Regions from separate parts of the Homo sapiens genome. Here region 1 is linked to region 2. The links come from fine-mapping of genetic effects on gene expression. Tissue or cell type: whole blood. Region 2 holds a variant in brackets; the other region holds the start of a gene. All regions are shown on one strand. Distances are from middle to middle.

The links. PIP is the estimated chance that this variant, and not a neighbour inherited with it, causes the effect.
Region 1: it holds the start of TYK2, and the variant in region 2 is fine-mapped to the expression of TYK2 in whole blood (INTERVAL, PIP 0.99).

The regions. Positions count from the first base shown.
Region 1 is chr19:10,375,762-10,383,845 of GRCh38, reverse strand. It overlaps TYK2 (tyrosine kinase 2), which reads left to right and starts at 3,274. Exons shown (of 25, transcript NM_003331.5): 1 at 3,274-3,466; 2 at 4,067-4,231; 3 at 5,420-5,632. The coding sequence starts at 5,440. RefSeq lists enhancers at 2,645-3,308, 3,217-3,376.
Region 2 is chr19:10,337,730-10,345,829 of GRCh38, reverse strand. ICAM3 (intercellular adhesion molecule 3) reads left to right here and starts at 6,206. Exons shown (of 7, transcript NM_002162.5): 1 at 6,206-6,291; 2 at 6,882-7,148. The coding sequence starts at 6,216. RefSeq lists enhancers at 4,608-5,355, 5,356-6,103, 6,197-6,246, 6,467-6,566, 6,852-7,600. The variant C/T (reference allele first, on the strand shown) is at 3,354.

The sequences.
Region 1 (8,084 bases), 38 kb before region 2:
TCTACTAAAAAATACAAAAAAATTAGCTGGGTGTGGTGGCACACGCCTGTAATCCCAGCTTCTCTGGAGGCTGAGGCAGAAGAATCGCTAGAACCTGGGAGGCAGGGATTACAGTGAGCCGAGATCGTGCCACTGCACTTCAGCCTAGCAACAGAGCAAGACTCCGCCTCAAAAAAAAAAAAGTTACCCAGGCATCGTGATGCACATCTGTAGTCCCAGCTACTCAGGAGGCTGAGGTGGAAGATTGTGAATGGTGAATCTGGGAAGTTGAGACTGCAGTGAATTGAGATCACAGCACTGCACTCCAGCCTGGGCAACAGAGCGAGATTCTTGTCTCAAAAAAAAAAAAAAAAAAAAAAAAAAGAAAGAAAGAAAGAAGAGAAACCCAGCTGGGCGCGGTGGCTCACATCTGTAATCCCAGCACTTTGGGAGGCCAAGGCGGGTGGATCACCTGAGGTCAGGAGCTCGAGACCAGTATGGCCAACCTGGCCAAACCCTGTCTCTATTAAAAATACAAAAATTAGCCAGGCGTGGTGGTGCACGCCTGTAATCCCAGCTACCGGGGATGCTGACGCAGGAGAATTGCTTGAACCTGAGAGGCAGAGGTTGCAGTGAGCCAAGATTGCGCCACTGCACTCCAGCCTGGGCAACAGAGCAAGACTCTGTCTCTTTAAAAAAAAAAAAAAAGAAAGAAACTTCCCATGAAATGTCAGGTTGCAATAAGGACTCTGAAGAAAATACAGCAGAGCCCAGGAGGTCAAGTTGCCCAGGCTGGAGTGCAGTGGTGTGATCACGGCTCACTGTAGCCTCAACCTCCTGGGCTCAAGCAATCCTCCCACCTCAGCCTTCGGAGTAGCTGGGACTAACTAATTTTTTTTCCCCCCGAGATGGAGTCTCACTCTGTAGCCCAAGCTGGAGTGCAGTGGTGGGATCTCAGCCCACTGCAACCTCCACCTCCTGGGCTCAAGCGATTCTCATACTTCAGCCTTAGACTAATTTTTTTTATTTTGGGTAGAGATGGGGTCTTGCTATATTGCCCAGGTTGGTCTTGAACTGGGCCCAGACAGTACTCCTTCTTTAGCTCCCTGAAGTGCTAGGTTTATAGGGATGAGCCACTGCATCCAGCCAGGACAAGTCTCTATCAGCATTTTATTTTATTTTATTTTATTTTATTTTTGAGACAGAGTCTCACTCTGGCGCCCAGGCTGGAGTGCAGTGGCGCAATCTCGGCTCACTGCAAGCTCCGCCTCCCCGGTTCACGCCATTCTCCTGCCTCAGGCTGCCACTACGCCCAGCTAATTGTTTGTATTTTTAGTAGAGACGGGGTTTCACCGCCTTAGCCAGGATGGTCTCGATTTCCTGACCTCATGATCCGCCCACCTCGGCCTCCCAAAGTGCTGGGATTACAGGCGTGAGCCACTGTGCCCGGCCTCTATCAGCATTTTCTTTCTTTTTCTTTTTCTTTTTTTTTTTTTGAGACAGAGTTTAGCTCTTGTTGCCCAGGCTGAAGGGCAATGGTGTGATCTCGGCTCACTGCAACTTCTGCCTCCCAAGTTCAAGCGATTCTCCTGCCTCAGCCTCCTGAATAGCTGGGATTACAGGTGCCCACCACCATGCCCAGCTAATTTTTGCATTTTTAGTAGAGACAGGGTTTCACCATGTTGGCCAGTCTGGTCTTGAACTCCTGACCTCAGGTGATCCGCCCGCCTCCACCTCCCAAAGTGCTGGGATTACAGGTGTGAAAGAGACCATTCCCGATCTCTTTCAGCATTTTCATACTGAATGTCCACAGCTGCCCTGTGAGGAGGCTTTTTACCCATATTTTCTGACTCAGAGAGAAGCAGCCACATGTCCCTTGGCCATGGCAGTTAAGACCAACTCCATGGAGCTGGGTGTCTTAGCTCACATCTGTAATCCCAGCACTTTGGAAAGCCAAGGCAGGATGATTGCTTGAGGCCAGAAGTTCAAGACCAGCCTGGGCAACATAGCCAGACCCCATCTCTACAAAAATTTAAAAATTAGCCACAAAATTTAAAAATTAACAACAAAAGGGCCGGGTGCGGTGGCTCACGCCTGTAATCCCAGCGCTTTGGGAGGGTGGATCACGAGGTCAGGAGTTCGAGACCAGCCTGGCCAAGATGGTGAAATCCCATCTCTACTAAAAATACAAAAATTAGCCGGGCGTGGTGGCGGGCGCCTGTTGTCCCAGCTACCCAGGAGGCTGAGGCAGGAGAATCGCTTGAATCCGGGAGTCTGAGGTTGCAGTGAGCCGAGATCGCAGCATTGCACTCCAGCCTGGGCGACAAGAGCGAAACTCCATCTTAAAAAAAAAAAAAAAAAAAAGTGGAAGATGAGGAAGTTGATCAGACATCAAGGATGAGCGGATGACTTAATAGGCTTCTTTGCTAAGACTTGGCTGGGCAGGTGAAAGACAAAGTCGAGGAGTGGTTATGGTGTGGCACAGAAGAAGGGTCAGAGGACGGTCTTTGTTACCTCTTCATGCCTGAGTTTCTTCCTCTGTGAAATGGGGATAATAAGAGCCGCCATACAGGGAATTGCTGCTAGGATCAAATGAGATAATGTATGTGAAACGCTCTGGCTGTAGGCTTCTCAGCAAATGGGCACGACTTGCGGAGTGGGGATTTGAATTCACGTCTGGCGGGATGTCCAAGCTGCTACCCTGACCGCTAGGGAGCTTCAGAGGACAGGGCTGCAGGTGATCAGGAAGAGGACTGGGGCAGGTGGGCGAGGAATGCCTCCCAGGAGTGAAGGAGGGGGAATTCTAGTCAGCAGGATGGAGTCGGCCAGGTAGAAACGAGGGAAAGGAGACAGGACCGGATGGAACGGGGAAGCCAAAGGGCAGGGCGTCGGAGGGTTGAATGGTGGCCGGTGCAGCTTTGAACACCGAGGTGAGGACATGCAGCTGTGTCCTAGGGTCAGGACCGTACACGCCTGACCCAATTCCACAGCACGGAGGGGAACTCCAGGATCCGGCCGCGTTGCCCACACACTTCGCTCTCCCTCCCGCCTCTCGCAAGCCCCTCCCCCGTCTCCGTCCACCGAGTGCCAGCCAATAGCAGAAGCGACAGCGCATCTGGGTGCCGACTCAGCCAATCGCGGCTGAGTGACGAATGAGCCCCAGGACCAATGAGAGTGCCGCCACCATGGCAAAAAAAAAAAAATCCAATGGTGACGAGCAGGGAGAACAGAGCAGCTGCCAATGGGCGTGTGCGTTTCAGGCGGCCAATGGGAGGAGGCGTCTCGGCGGGGGACAAGCAGTAGCTACCCGCGGGAGCGGGGAGGGGTCCGGGTTCGAGCTTGTGTTCCCCCGGAAGGGTGAGTCTGGACGCGGGCGCGGAAGGAGCGCGGCCGGAGGTCCTCAGGAAGAAGCCGCGGGGACTGGCTGCGCTTGACAGGCTGCACTTGGATGGGAGCACCTGGTGCCTCGGGACTGCTCCGATGCCCGGTGGGTGCACATCCCAGTTCCCGCCGTTGCCGGCCGGGTTTAGAGGTTTTGGGGGGAGGACATGGGGGCGTGCAGCCTTCCCAGTTGCAAACTTCACTCCGACCCTGTCTTCAAAGCTGGGTCTGGGTCCAGTGGGGACGAGAAAGGAGGAAGGAGGAAGTAGGCTCCGCGAAAGCCCCATCCCCGGGATCTCATCTATAACATGAATAGGTATTAATGGCAAAGGCTAATTAAGCGCTTACTGTATACCAGGCACTTTCTCTGCCTCCTCGCGTTAAATCCTCCCAGCAGCCTTTTGAGGTAGACACTGTTACATGCCCATTTTCCAGATGAGGAAACCAGCAACATGGGTGGAAGTGACAGCCCCTCCACTTCCATACTGGCGCCCTCAGGAGGCTCAGGCCCTGGATTGGGGGGATGGAGCTGGACATAAACTCTCCTAGGCTTTGGGGAGTCAACAGGGACTGAGGTCACTCATGGGGGTAAATGTGGGAGAGGAGAATTGTGGCCTGAAAGAGGCCATCACCACGATGAAACTAATAACAATTATGTTATTCTTGTTTTGGTCATATTTGTTCTTTTTGTGTGTGCCTGAATCAGGGTCTGTGCTGAATGTGTAATATGCGGAACTATATTGAAACATTACAACCATCTTTTGATGGCAACACCCTGAGGACCTCCCTTTTCCAGATGGGGAAACTGAGGCCCAGAATTGCTAAGTGGCTTGCTTGAGTTGACACAGGGAGCTCCAGGACTCACCCTCAGGTATGTTTGACCACATCTGCCTGTCTGGTTATTTTGGGGAGGTGTGTTAAGAGCAGATTTTTATTTTACTTTTTATTTATTTATTTATTTATTTATTTATTTATTTATTGTATTTTAGTAGAGATGGGGTTTCACCATGTTGGTCAAGATGGTCTCAATCTCCAGACCTCGTGATCTGTCCGCCTTGGCCTCCCAAAGTGCTGGGATTACAGTCATGAGCCACCGCGCCTGGCCCTTTTTATATATTTTTATTACTTATTTATTTATTTATTTATTTATATTTTTAGAGTCAGGGTCTCACTCTGTCACCCAGGCTGGAATGCAGTGGTGCGATCACTGCTCACTGCAGCCTCCAACTCCTGGGCTCAGGAGATCCTCCCACTTCAGCCTCCCGAGTAGCTTGGAGTACAGATGTGCACCCCCACGCCTGGCTAAATTTTAAAAATTTCTTGTAGAGGCCGGGCACAGTGGCTCACGCCTGTAATCCCAGCACTTTGGGAGGCCGAGGCGGGTGGATCACCTGAGGTCAGAGGTTCAAGACCAGCCTGGCCAACATGGCAAAACCCTGTCTCTACTAAAAATACAAAAATTAGCCCGGTGTGGTGGCAGGCGCCAGCTACTCAGGAGGCTGAGGCAGGAGAATCACTTAAACCCAGGAGGCAGAGGTTGTGGTGAGCAAGATTGTACCATTGCACTCCAGCCTGGGCAACAAGAGTGAAACTCTGTCTCAAAAATAAGATAAGATAAGATAAGATAAGATAAGATAAGATAAGATAAGATATAAAATAAAACGTCTTGTAGAAACAGGGTCTTGCTATATGGCCTAGGCTGGTCTCGAGCTCCTGGGCTCAAGCAATCCTCTTGCCTCAACATCCCAAAGTCCTGGGATTAGAGGCGTGAGCCACTGTACCTGGCCAGAGCAGATTTTTATATCTGTGTCAATTTGTGGAAAGAGAGGAGGGTTCAGTGTTATTGTTGATGAGAGATCTAGGTGGGGATGCATACCCCAACCCTGTCCAATAAATGTGGAAAACGAGACTCAGAGAGGGAATCGGGTCTCTAATGTCATGCCAAGATGGGAGCCCAGAATCTTCCCCTCAGGCCTTAGCTGGGGTGGGTGGAAGGTTGAAGAGCTAACAGGGGTCTCTGGGCTGAGACTTGGGAGCTGACAGATTGTCCCCTTTCCAGCTGAGCCACCTGCCGGGAGCATGCCTCTGCGCCACTGGGGGATGGCCAGGGGCAGTAAGCCCGTTGGGGATGGAGCCCAGCCCATGGCTGCCATGGGAGGCCTGAAGGTGCTTCTGCACTGGGCTGGTCCAGGCGGCGGGGAGCCCTGGGTCACTTTCAGTGAGTCATCGCTGACAGCTGAGGAAGTCTGCATCCACATTGCACATAAAGTTGGTGAGTCTGGGGCGTTGGCACCATGGGGACTGGGGTGGGTGTGCAAGCAGCAGCTGGGCCCCATCCATCCGTCTATCCACCCACCCACCCATCCACCCACCCATCCACCCACTCATCCATCCATCCATCCATCCACCCATCCACCCACCCATCCACCCTCCCAACCACCCATCCATCCACCCACCCACCCATCCATCCACCCATGCATCCATCCATCCTCCCATCCACCCATCCACCCACCCATTCACCCACCCATTCACCCATCCACCCACCCTTTCACCCATCCACCCATCCACCCATTCATCCACCCACCCACCCACCCATCCATCCACCCACGCATCCATCCACCCACCCACCCACCCATCCATCCACCCACGCATCCATCCATACATCCACCCACCCACTCATCCATCCACCCACCTATCCACCTATCCATCCACCTACTCACCCACCCATCCACCCACCTATCCACCCACCCACCCATCCACCCATCCATCCACCCACCCATTCATCCATCTATCCATCCATCCACCCATCGATCCATCCATACCCACCCATTCATCCATCCACCCATCCATCCACCCACCCATCCACCCATCCATCCACCCATCCATCCATTCATCCATCCATCCATCCACCCACCCACCCATCCATCCACCCACCCACCCATCCATCCATCCATCCATCCACCCACCCACTCACCCACTCACCCACCTATCCATGCATCCATCCATCCACCCACCCATCCATCCTCCCACCCATTCATCCATCTATCCATCCATCCATCCATCCATCCATCCATCCATCCATCCACCCACCCACCCACCTATTCATCCATCTATCCATCCATCCATCCATCCATCCATCCATCCATCCATCCATCCATCCACCCGTTCATTCGGTGAACATTTTGTAAGCATCTACTGTGTGGCAGCTGCAAATCACTGCCTTTGTAGAGCTGAAATTTTAGTAGGGAGGACAGCAAGAAATATAATAAATCAGAAAACTTGGCCAGGTGCAGTAGCTGACACTTGTAATCCCAGTACTTGAGGAGGCCCAGGCAGGAGGATTGCTTGAGGCCAGTAGTTGGAGACCAGCCTGGGCAACATAGGGAGACCTTGTCTCAACAAAATAATTTTTAGAAATTAGCCAGGCATGGTGGTACATGCCTGTAGTCCCAGCAACTTGAGAGCCTGAGGCAAGAGGATCGCTTGAGCCCAGGAGTTCAAGCCTGCAATGAGGTATGGTTTCGTCACTGCACTCCAGCCTGGGTGACAGAGTGAGACCCAGTGTCATTAAAAAAAGAAAGTCAGGCCGGGCGCGGTGGCTCATGCCTGTAATCCCAGCACTTTGGGAGGCTGAGGCTGGTGGATCACTTGAGGTCAGAAGTTTGAGAGCAGCCTGGCCAACATGGCAAAACTCCAGCTCTACTAAAAATACAAAAACTAGCCGGGCGTGGGGTGCGCACCTGTAATTCCAGCTACTCAGGAGGCTGAGGCAGGAGAATAGCTTGAACCTGGGACATGGAGGTTGCAGTGAGCCGAGATCACAGCACTGCACTCCAGGCTGGGTGACAGAGCTAGACTCCGTTTCAAAAATAAAAAAAGGCCAGGTGCGGTGGCTCATGCCTGTAATCCCAACACTTTCAGAGGCTGAGGCGGGCAGATCACCTGAGATCAGGAGTTCAAGACCAGCCTGGCCAATGTAGTGAAACCGCATCTCTACTAAAAATACAAAATGTAGCCAGGCATGGTGGCAGGTGCCTGCAATCCCAGCTACTCAGAAGGCTGAGGCAGGAGAATAGCTTGAACCTGGGACATGGAGGTTGCAGTGAGCCGAGATCACAGCACTGCACTCCAGGCTGGGTGACAGAGCTAGACTCCGTTTCAAAAATAAAAAAAGGCCAGGTGCGGTGGCTCATGCCTGTAATCCCAACACTTTCAGAGGCTGAGGCGGGCAGATCACCTGAGATCAGGAGTTCAAGACCAGCCTGGCCAATGTAGTGAAACCGCATCTCTACTAAAAATACAAAATGTAGCCAGGCATGGTGGCAGGTGCCTGCAATCCTAGCTACTCAGGAGGCTGAGGCAGGAGAATTGCTTGAACTTGGGAGGTGGAGGCTGCAGTGAGCTGAGATCGTGCCATTGTACTCCAGCCTGGGCAACAAGAGCGAAACTCCATCTCAAAGAAAAAAAAAAAAAAAAAAGAAAGAAAGGCTTTCCCTCCTCCTGCACAGGAAATTGCACTTCCAAATATATCTACTACAGTCTTTCTTTTTTTCTTTTTTTTGAGATGGAGTCTCGCTCTGTCCCAGGCTGAAGTGCAATGGCGCAATCTCAGCTAACTGCAACCTCCGCCTCCCGGGTTCAAGCGATTCTCCGGCCTCAGCCTCCCGAGTAGCTGGGACTACAGGTGTGTGCCACCATGCCCGGCTAGATTTTTTTTTTTTTTT
Region 2 (8,100 bases):
TCACTGCAACCTCTGCCTCCTGGGTCCAAGTGATTCTCCTGCCTCAGCCTCCTGAGTAGCTGGGATTACAGGCGTGGGGCCAGTACGCCTGGCTAATTTTTGTATTTTTAGTAGAGATGGGGTTTCGCCATGTTGGCCAGGCTGGTCTCGAACTCCTAACCTCAGGTGATCTGCTCGCCTCAGCCTCCCAAAGTGCTGGAATTACAGTCATGAGCCACTGCGCCTGTCATGTTTTCTTCTTTTTCTGCATTGCTATTAAAAATTTTGGCTGGGGCCGGGCGCAGTAGCTCATGCCTGTAATCCCAACTCTTTGGGAGGCCAAGGTGGGTGAATCACCTGAGGTCAGGAGTTAAAGACCAGCCTGGCCAACATGGTGAAACCCCTGTCTCTACTAAAAATACAAAAATTAGCTGGGTGTGGTGGCGGGCGCCTGTTATCTCAGCTACTTGGGTGGCTGAGGCAGGAGAATCACTTGAACCTGGGAGGTGGAGGTTGTAGTGAGCCGAGATCGTGCCACCGCACTCCAGCCTGGGCGACAGAGCAAGACTTAATCTCAAAAAAAAAAAAAGAAAAGAAAAAATTGTTTCCTCATAATCGTAAAGCTGTTATACTCACTGCAGGCACAGCTAGTACATTTTGCTCAACCCCACAGGCTCCGTTCCCTTTACGAGGTATTTATTTATTTATTTATTTTTATTTTTGCGACGGAGTCTCTCTCCTCTGTCATCCTGGCTGGAGTGCAGTGGCATGATCTCGGCTCACTGCAACCTCGGCCTCCAGGGCTCAGTCGGTTCTTGGGCCTCAGTCTTCCAAGTAGCTGTAAGTACAGGCATGCGCCACCACGTCCGGTGAATTTTTTGTATTTTTAGTTGCCATGTTGGCCAGGCTTTTACTAGCTATTTATAATATGCTTGAGTCACTCACAGGAATGAAATACTGTCAGCATCAATAGTTAGCAGCTCTTTCAAAATACATTTTATTGCCTCTATAAGAAACCTTAACTATTCTATTAGTCCAGTAATTCCAAATGGTCTTATTATTTCTTGGGTTTTGTTTGTTTGTTTGTTTGTTTTTGAGACGTTGTTTCTCTCTTGTTGCCCAAGCTGGAGTGCAATGGTGTGACCTCGGCTCACTGCAAACTCCTCCAAGGTTCAAGTGATTCTCCGGCCTCAGCCTCCTGAGTAGCTGGGATTACAGGCACGAGCCACCATGTCTGGCTAATTTTTTGTATTTTTAGTAGAGACTGGGTTTCCTCATGTTAGTCAGGCTGGTCTCGAACTCCTGACCTCAGGTGATCCATCCGCTTCAGCCTCCCAAAGTCCTGGGATTATAGGCATGAGCCACCGCACCTGGCTCGTCTTATTATTTCTATACATAATATATGCTCTTTTGGCTGGGCGTGGTAGCTCAAGCCTGGTGGCAGACGCCTGTAATCCCAGCTACTTGGGAGGCTGAGGCAGGAGAATCGCTTGGACCTGGAAGGCAGAGGTTGCAGTGAGCCAAGACTGAACCACCTCACTCCAGCCTGGGCAACAGAGTGAGAACCCATCTCAAAAAATACTGATAATAATAAGATCATCTTCAGAACTCAGTTCCTGGTGCATGAAGAGATTCAATACAGCCCCCTCACTCTCAGTTCTTAGAAAGAAGAATATGCCAGCCTGACCAACATGGTGAAACCCCCGTCTCTAATAAAAATACAAAAATTAGCTGGGTGTGGTGGCGCACGCCTGTGATCCCAGCTACTCAGGAGGCTGAGGCAGGAGAATCGCTTGAACCTGGGAGGTGGAGATTGCAGTGAGCCCAGCCTGGGAGACAGAGCAAGACTCATTCTCAAAAAAAAAAAAAGAAGAAGAATATGAAAGAGATAGGATCAATAACTACCTTCATTGTTTAATAGCCTAAGAGTGAAAGCCCAGCACAGTGGCTCACCCCTGTAATAATCCCAGCACTTTGGGAGGTTGAGTTGGGAGGATCACTTGAGCCCAGGGGTTCGAGAACAGCCTGGGCAATATGTCAAAAGCTCCTCTGTAGAAAAAATACAAAAATTAGCCGAGTGTAGTGGCACACACCTATAGTCCCAGCTACTAGGGAGGCTGAGGTGGGAGGATCACCTGAGCCTGGGAGGTCAAGGTTGCAGTGAGCCATGATTATGTCACTGCATTCCAGCCTGGGAGACAGAGCCAGACCCTGTCTCAGGAAGAAGAAGAAAAAAAAAAAAGCCAAATCTTTTTATCCCAGGATGTCTGAAAAGGACAGAGTCTATGGAGCATGGATGCAGAAAAGTAGTTATTCCTACCAGAAAAAAAAAAAATGAAATGTGGACACAGCCACTCAAGATCAGAGACTCAACCAGTGAAAGCAATTAGCTTCAATTTCATTGTCACCAGGAGGGCGCACACCAGAGAACCTGGGAGAAAGCCTGGGCTAGAGCCCTTAGCATTCTCAGTGTTACTGGTGCTGTGGTTCAACAACCTTTGTGGGAATGAGGAGAACCAGAGACCATCACCATCACACGTAAAAAGGATCCTATAGCAACAATGTGGCTGTCAAAAATCAGCTGGAGGCCAGGCGCGGTGGCTCACGCCTGTAATCCTAGCACTTTGGGAGGCCGAGGCGGGCGGATCACCTGAGGTCAGGAGTTTGAGACTAGCCTGGTCAACATGGTGAAACCCCGTCTCTACTAAAAATGCAAAAAATTAGCTGGGTGTGGTGGTGCATGCCTGTAATCCCAGCTACTTGGGAAGTTGAGGCGGGAGAATCACTTGAACCTGGGAGGCAGAGGTTGCAGTGAGCCCAGACTATGCCACTGCACTCCAGCCTGGGTGACAGACTGAGACCCTGTCTCAAAAAAAAAAAAAAAATCAGCTGGAGCTTAAATTATACATTGTTTGCAATCCAGACTGTACTTGCTTTCTTGTCAATGGCTTGAGATATGTGCAGAGGCCCCTTAAACATGTGTAGGTGACCTTTCTCTGTCGCCCAGGCTGGAGTGCAGGGGCACAATCTCAGCTAACTGCAACCTCCACTTCCCGGGCTCAAGCAATCCTCCCGCTGCAGCCTCCTGAGTAGCTGGGACTACAGGTGTGTGCCATCAAGCTTGGCTGATTTTTTTGTACTTTTTTTTTTTTTTTCGAGATGGAGTCTCGCTCTGTCGCCCAGGCTGGAGTGCAGTGGCGCAATCTCAGCTCACTGCAAGCTCTGCCTCCCGGGTTCACACTATTCTCCTGCCTCAGCCTCCCAAGTAGCTGGTACTACAGGCGCCCGCCACCATGCCCAGCTAATTTTTGTATTTTTTTTAGTAGAGACGGGGTTTCACCGTGTTAGCCAGGATGGTCTCGATCTCCTGACCT[C/T]GTGATCCGCCCGCCTCGGCCTCCCAAAGTGCTGGGATTACAGGCGTGAGCCACTGCACCTGGCCGATTTTTTGTATTTTTAGTAGAGACAGGGTTTTGGCATGCTGCCCAGGCTGGTCTGGAACTCCCGACCTCAAGGGATCCGCCTGTCTAGGCCTCCCAAAGTGTTAAGATTACAGGTGTGAGCCACCACGCCTGGCCCAGAAATACTCTTTTTTTTTTTTTTTGAGATGGAGTCTCACTCTGTTGCCCAGCCTGGATGGAGTGCAGTGGCGCGATCTCGGCTCACTGCAAGCTCCGCCTTCTGGGTTCACGCCATTCTCCTGCCTCAGCCTCCCGAGTAGCTGGGACTACAGGCACCTGCCACCATTTTTTTTTGTATTTTTAGTAGAGACGGGGCTAATTTTTTTTTGTATTTTTAGTAGAGATGGGGTTTCACCGTGTTAACCAGGATGGTCTCGATCTCCTTACCTCGTGATCTGCCCGCCTCAGCCTCCCAAAGTGCTAGGATTACAGGCGTGAGCTACCACACCTGGCCCAGAAATACTTCTTTATCAGAAATATTACTGGCGGGTGTAGCAGGGCACGCCTATAATCCCAGCACTTTGGGAGGTCGAGGCAGGCAGATCCCTTAAGCTTAGGAGTTCAAGACCAACCTGGGCAATATGGTGAAAGCCGTCTCTACAGAAAATTAGCCAGGCACAGTGGTGTGTACCTGTGGTCTCAGCTCCTAGGGAGGCTGAGGTGGGAGGATCACTTGAACCCAGGAGGCTGAGATTGCAGTTAGCTGAGATTGTGCCCCTGCACTCCAGCCTAGGCGACACGGTGAGACTCTGTTTCAAAAAACAAAAAAGAAATATGACTTATTTACAAATATTTCTTTCTTTTTTATTTTTAGAGACAGGGTCTCACTATTACGTAAGTATTATAAATTATATATATATGTTTGTTTGTTTGTTTGTTTTTCTGAGACAGAGTCTTGCTCTGTCACCCAGGCTGGAGTGCAGCGGCACAATCTCCACTCACTGCAACCTCCGCCTCTTGGGTTCAAGTGATTCTCCTGCCTCAGCCTCCTGAGTAACTGGGACTACAGGTGCCCGCCACAATGCCCAGCTAATTTTTTATATTTTTGGTGGAGATGGGGTTTCACTGTGTTAGCCAGGATGGTCTCGATTTCCTGACCTCGTCATCCACCTACCTCAGCCTCCCAAAGTGCTGCTAGGATTACAGACGTGAGCCAGTAAGTCCGACATCTTTTTTTTTTTTTTTTTTTTTTGTGGAAACAGGGTCTCACTGTGTCTCCCAGGCTGGAGTGCAGGGGCACAATCTCGACTCACTGCAGCTTTGACCTCCCAGGCTCAAGCGATCCTCTCACCTCAGCCTTCCAAGGAGCTGGGACTACAGGCACCAGGCCCATGCTACTGGTCCCTGCTGTTTACAAATACACTAGACTTGGGTTTTAGCTGCTCTCTCAACACCAGGTGGGAAATGGATTGTTCGGAAGGTAGAGGAATAGAGGAGGGACCTGCTTAGGAAGGTGGGGGTGCTCTAGATGAGAGAGGAGGTGCTGTGACCTCAAGGTCTGGGGAAAGTGGGTGAGTGCAGGGCCCCATCAAGGCTCTCAACAAGGCCTCTCTCTCTGGAGCTCAGATGTGAAGCCCAGAAGGCAGGTCAGAGGCCTGAGGTCAGAGGCAGGTCAAAGGTGGGGGTCCCACCTGGTCCCCTTGGCGCCTTCCCTTGGAATGCAGTGACCAGCTGCCTGGAAGGGTGGGCAAGGGGACAACAGGATGGGGTAAAGGCCAGTTACAAGTAGAATCCTGGAAGGCCGGGCGCAGTGGCTCACGCCTGTAATCCCAACACTTTGGGAGGCCAAGGCGGGCAGCTCACTTGAGGTCAGAAGTTTGAGACCAGCTTGGCCAACATGGTGAAACCCCGTCTCTACCAAAAAGTACAAAAATTAGCCGGGCGTGGTGGCACATGCCTGTAATCCCAGCTACTCGGGAGGCTGAGGCAGGAAAATCGTTTGAACCCGGGAGGCAGAGGCTGCAGTGAGCCGAGATCCCGCCACTGCACTCCAACCTGGGTGACAGAGTGAGACTCTGTCTCAAAACAAACAAACAAAAACCAAGTAGAATCCTGGATAGACAGTGGCTCAGGGACTCAGCTGTCCCCAAATCACCTACCTTAGCTCTTTGTGCAGGGGATGGGGGATCCCCAAGATCTTCAAAGATAGGGAGGTATCCTCAAGATCTTCAAAGGTGGCCAGGCGTGGTGGCTCACGCCTGTAATCGCAACACTTTGGGAGGTCAAGATGAGAGGAGGCCATCTTAAGGCCAGGAGTTCAAGACCAGTCGGGGCAACATAGCAAGACTCTGCTTCTGTTTCTGTTTTTGTTTTTGTTTTTTAATGTTTCCTCGAAATCCCACCTTAACATCTACACAATGGTGCCTACAGTTTTCCCCATTAACTTCCTCTCTGGGGACAGAATATTCCCCTACCCACCTAAGTTCAGCCAGAAGGAGATGCCTCATCCCCCCCACCCAGGCTTCCCAGTGCTGAGAACAAAAGAAACCAGTTTAGTTAGCATTTCCTGTGAATTCAAATGGGGGCCAGCAGTGCAACTGGGACCAGCCCATTCCCTGGGGGAGACTCAGCAGTGCTGGCCACTTTGCAGAGCCCCGTCTGGGTCCCCCACCCTGGCCCCCAAGGGCCACAGCATCCCCTTCCACCCACAGGCCTGGGCAAGGTGCAGTCCCCAGACTTCTGCAATCTTAACCGCTGTGCTTCCGTCGCAGTGGGAGGCCCCGCCTTTTCCCCTGCCTGCCCTTCGGGCACCTCAGGAAGGCACCTTCCTCTGTCAGAATGGCCACCATGGTACCATCCGTGTTGTGGCCCAGGGCCTGCTGGACTCTGCTGGTCTGCTGTCTGCTGACCCCAGGTGAGACCAGTCAAGCCGGGGAGGGCTGGAGAGGGCTGCGTTTTGGGGATCAGTAGAGGGTAGAGGAATAGAACGCAACGCTGTTCACATCCTGCCACACTGCGACCTGGCCGCTGACTCTGTATCCTCGGGAGAAAGTTCTGGTTCCTTAGTTCAGCCTTCAGGTGGTCAGGCCCCAGCATAGGCTTGTACGCCATCCCTCTCCCCTAACACACACACACACACCCCTCATGCTTCCTGCTCCATCTGAACTCCTGAAATTTGCCCTTTGCGTATGTGCTTCCCTCTGCCAGGATCACCTGTCCCTTTCACTTGCTAACTCCTACTTAGCCTTCAGTTTCGGGCTGCAATGGTCCCCGCTTCCAGGAAGCCTTCCCTGACTCACCTCCTCCTATGCTGGATCAGAGCCTCTTCTGGCCTCCTTCTGAGTTCTCCCCGGTCTCTGATGGATTCTACCTTTCCCACTGGACCATGAAGGCAGGAACCCTTCTGTCTCGGCACAAGGAGAGAGGTGTTAAATGGTGGGGCCTGTTGATGCGTGGGTTGGGGGACAAGGAAACAAACACCAGGACTTCTTCATGTTCCTGAAGGTGTCCAGGGGCAGGAGTTCCTTTTGCGGGTGGAGCCCCAGAACCCTGTGCTCTCTGCTGGAGGGTCCCTGTTTGTGAACTGCAGTACTGATTGTCCCAGCTCTGAGAAAATCGCCTTGGAGACGTCCCTATCAAAGGAGCTGGTGGCCAGTGGCATGGGCTGGGCAGCCTTCAATCTCAGCAACGTGACTGGCAACAGTCGGATCCTCTGCTCAGTGTACTGCAATGGCTCTCAGATAACAGGCTCCTCTAACATCACCGTGTACAGTGAGTCGACGTGTCCGGAGGTGGGACTGGTCTTGGGTAGTGGTGTGGGCAAGTGGCCAATGGCTCAGGAGAGTGGGGACCCTCAGTTTGCAAAGAATGGACCACAGTTCTGACCCAGAGCTCAGACCTGGACATTTGTGTGTGAGATACAAAGATAGACAGAGACAGAGACACAGAGACAGAGACAGAGATATAGAGACGCATCTCAATCTCATGCCAAGGCAGCAGTTGTGAAATCAATTAACTTGGGCCCCAACAAGCATTTTTTTTTTTTTTTTGAGACAGAGTTTCGCTCTTTTTGCCTAGGCTGGAGTGCAGTGGCACGATGTCGGCTCACTGCAACCTTCGCCTCCTGGGTTCAAGTGATTCTCCTGCCTCAGCCTCCCGAGTGGCTGAGATTACACATGCACGCCACCACACCCAGCAAATTTTGTATTTTTAGTTGAGATGGCATTTCACCATGTTGGCCAGTCTGGTCTTGAACTCCTGACCTCAGGCGATCCGCCCACCTCAGCCTCCCAAAGTGCTGGGATTACAGGCATGGGCCACTGCGCCCGGCCCCAACAAGCTTTTTTTTTTTTTTGAGATGGCGTCTCTTACTCTGTAGCCCAGGCTGGAGTGCAGTGGTGCAATCTCGGCTCACTGCGACCTCTGCCTCCCAGGTCCAGCTAATGCCCAGCTAAGTTTTGTATTTTTAGTAGAGACGGGGTGTTCCGCCCACATCAGCCTCTCAAAGTGCTGGGATTACAAGTGTGAGCCACTGCGCCTGGCCCCAACAATAATCCCAACACTTTGGGAGGCCAAGGCAGGAGGATTGCTTGAGTCCGGAAATTTAAGACCAGGCAGAGCAATATAGGGACACCCCGTCTCTACAAAAATAAATAAAAAATATTAGCTGGGCATGGTGGCACATGCCTGAAGTCCCAGCTACTTGGGGGACCAAGGTGGGAGA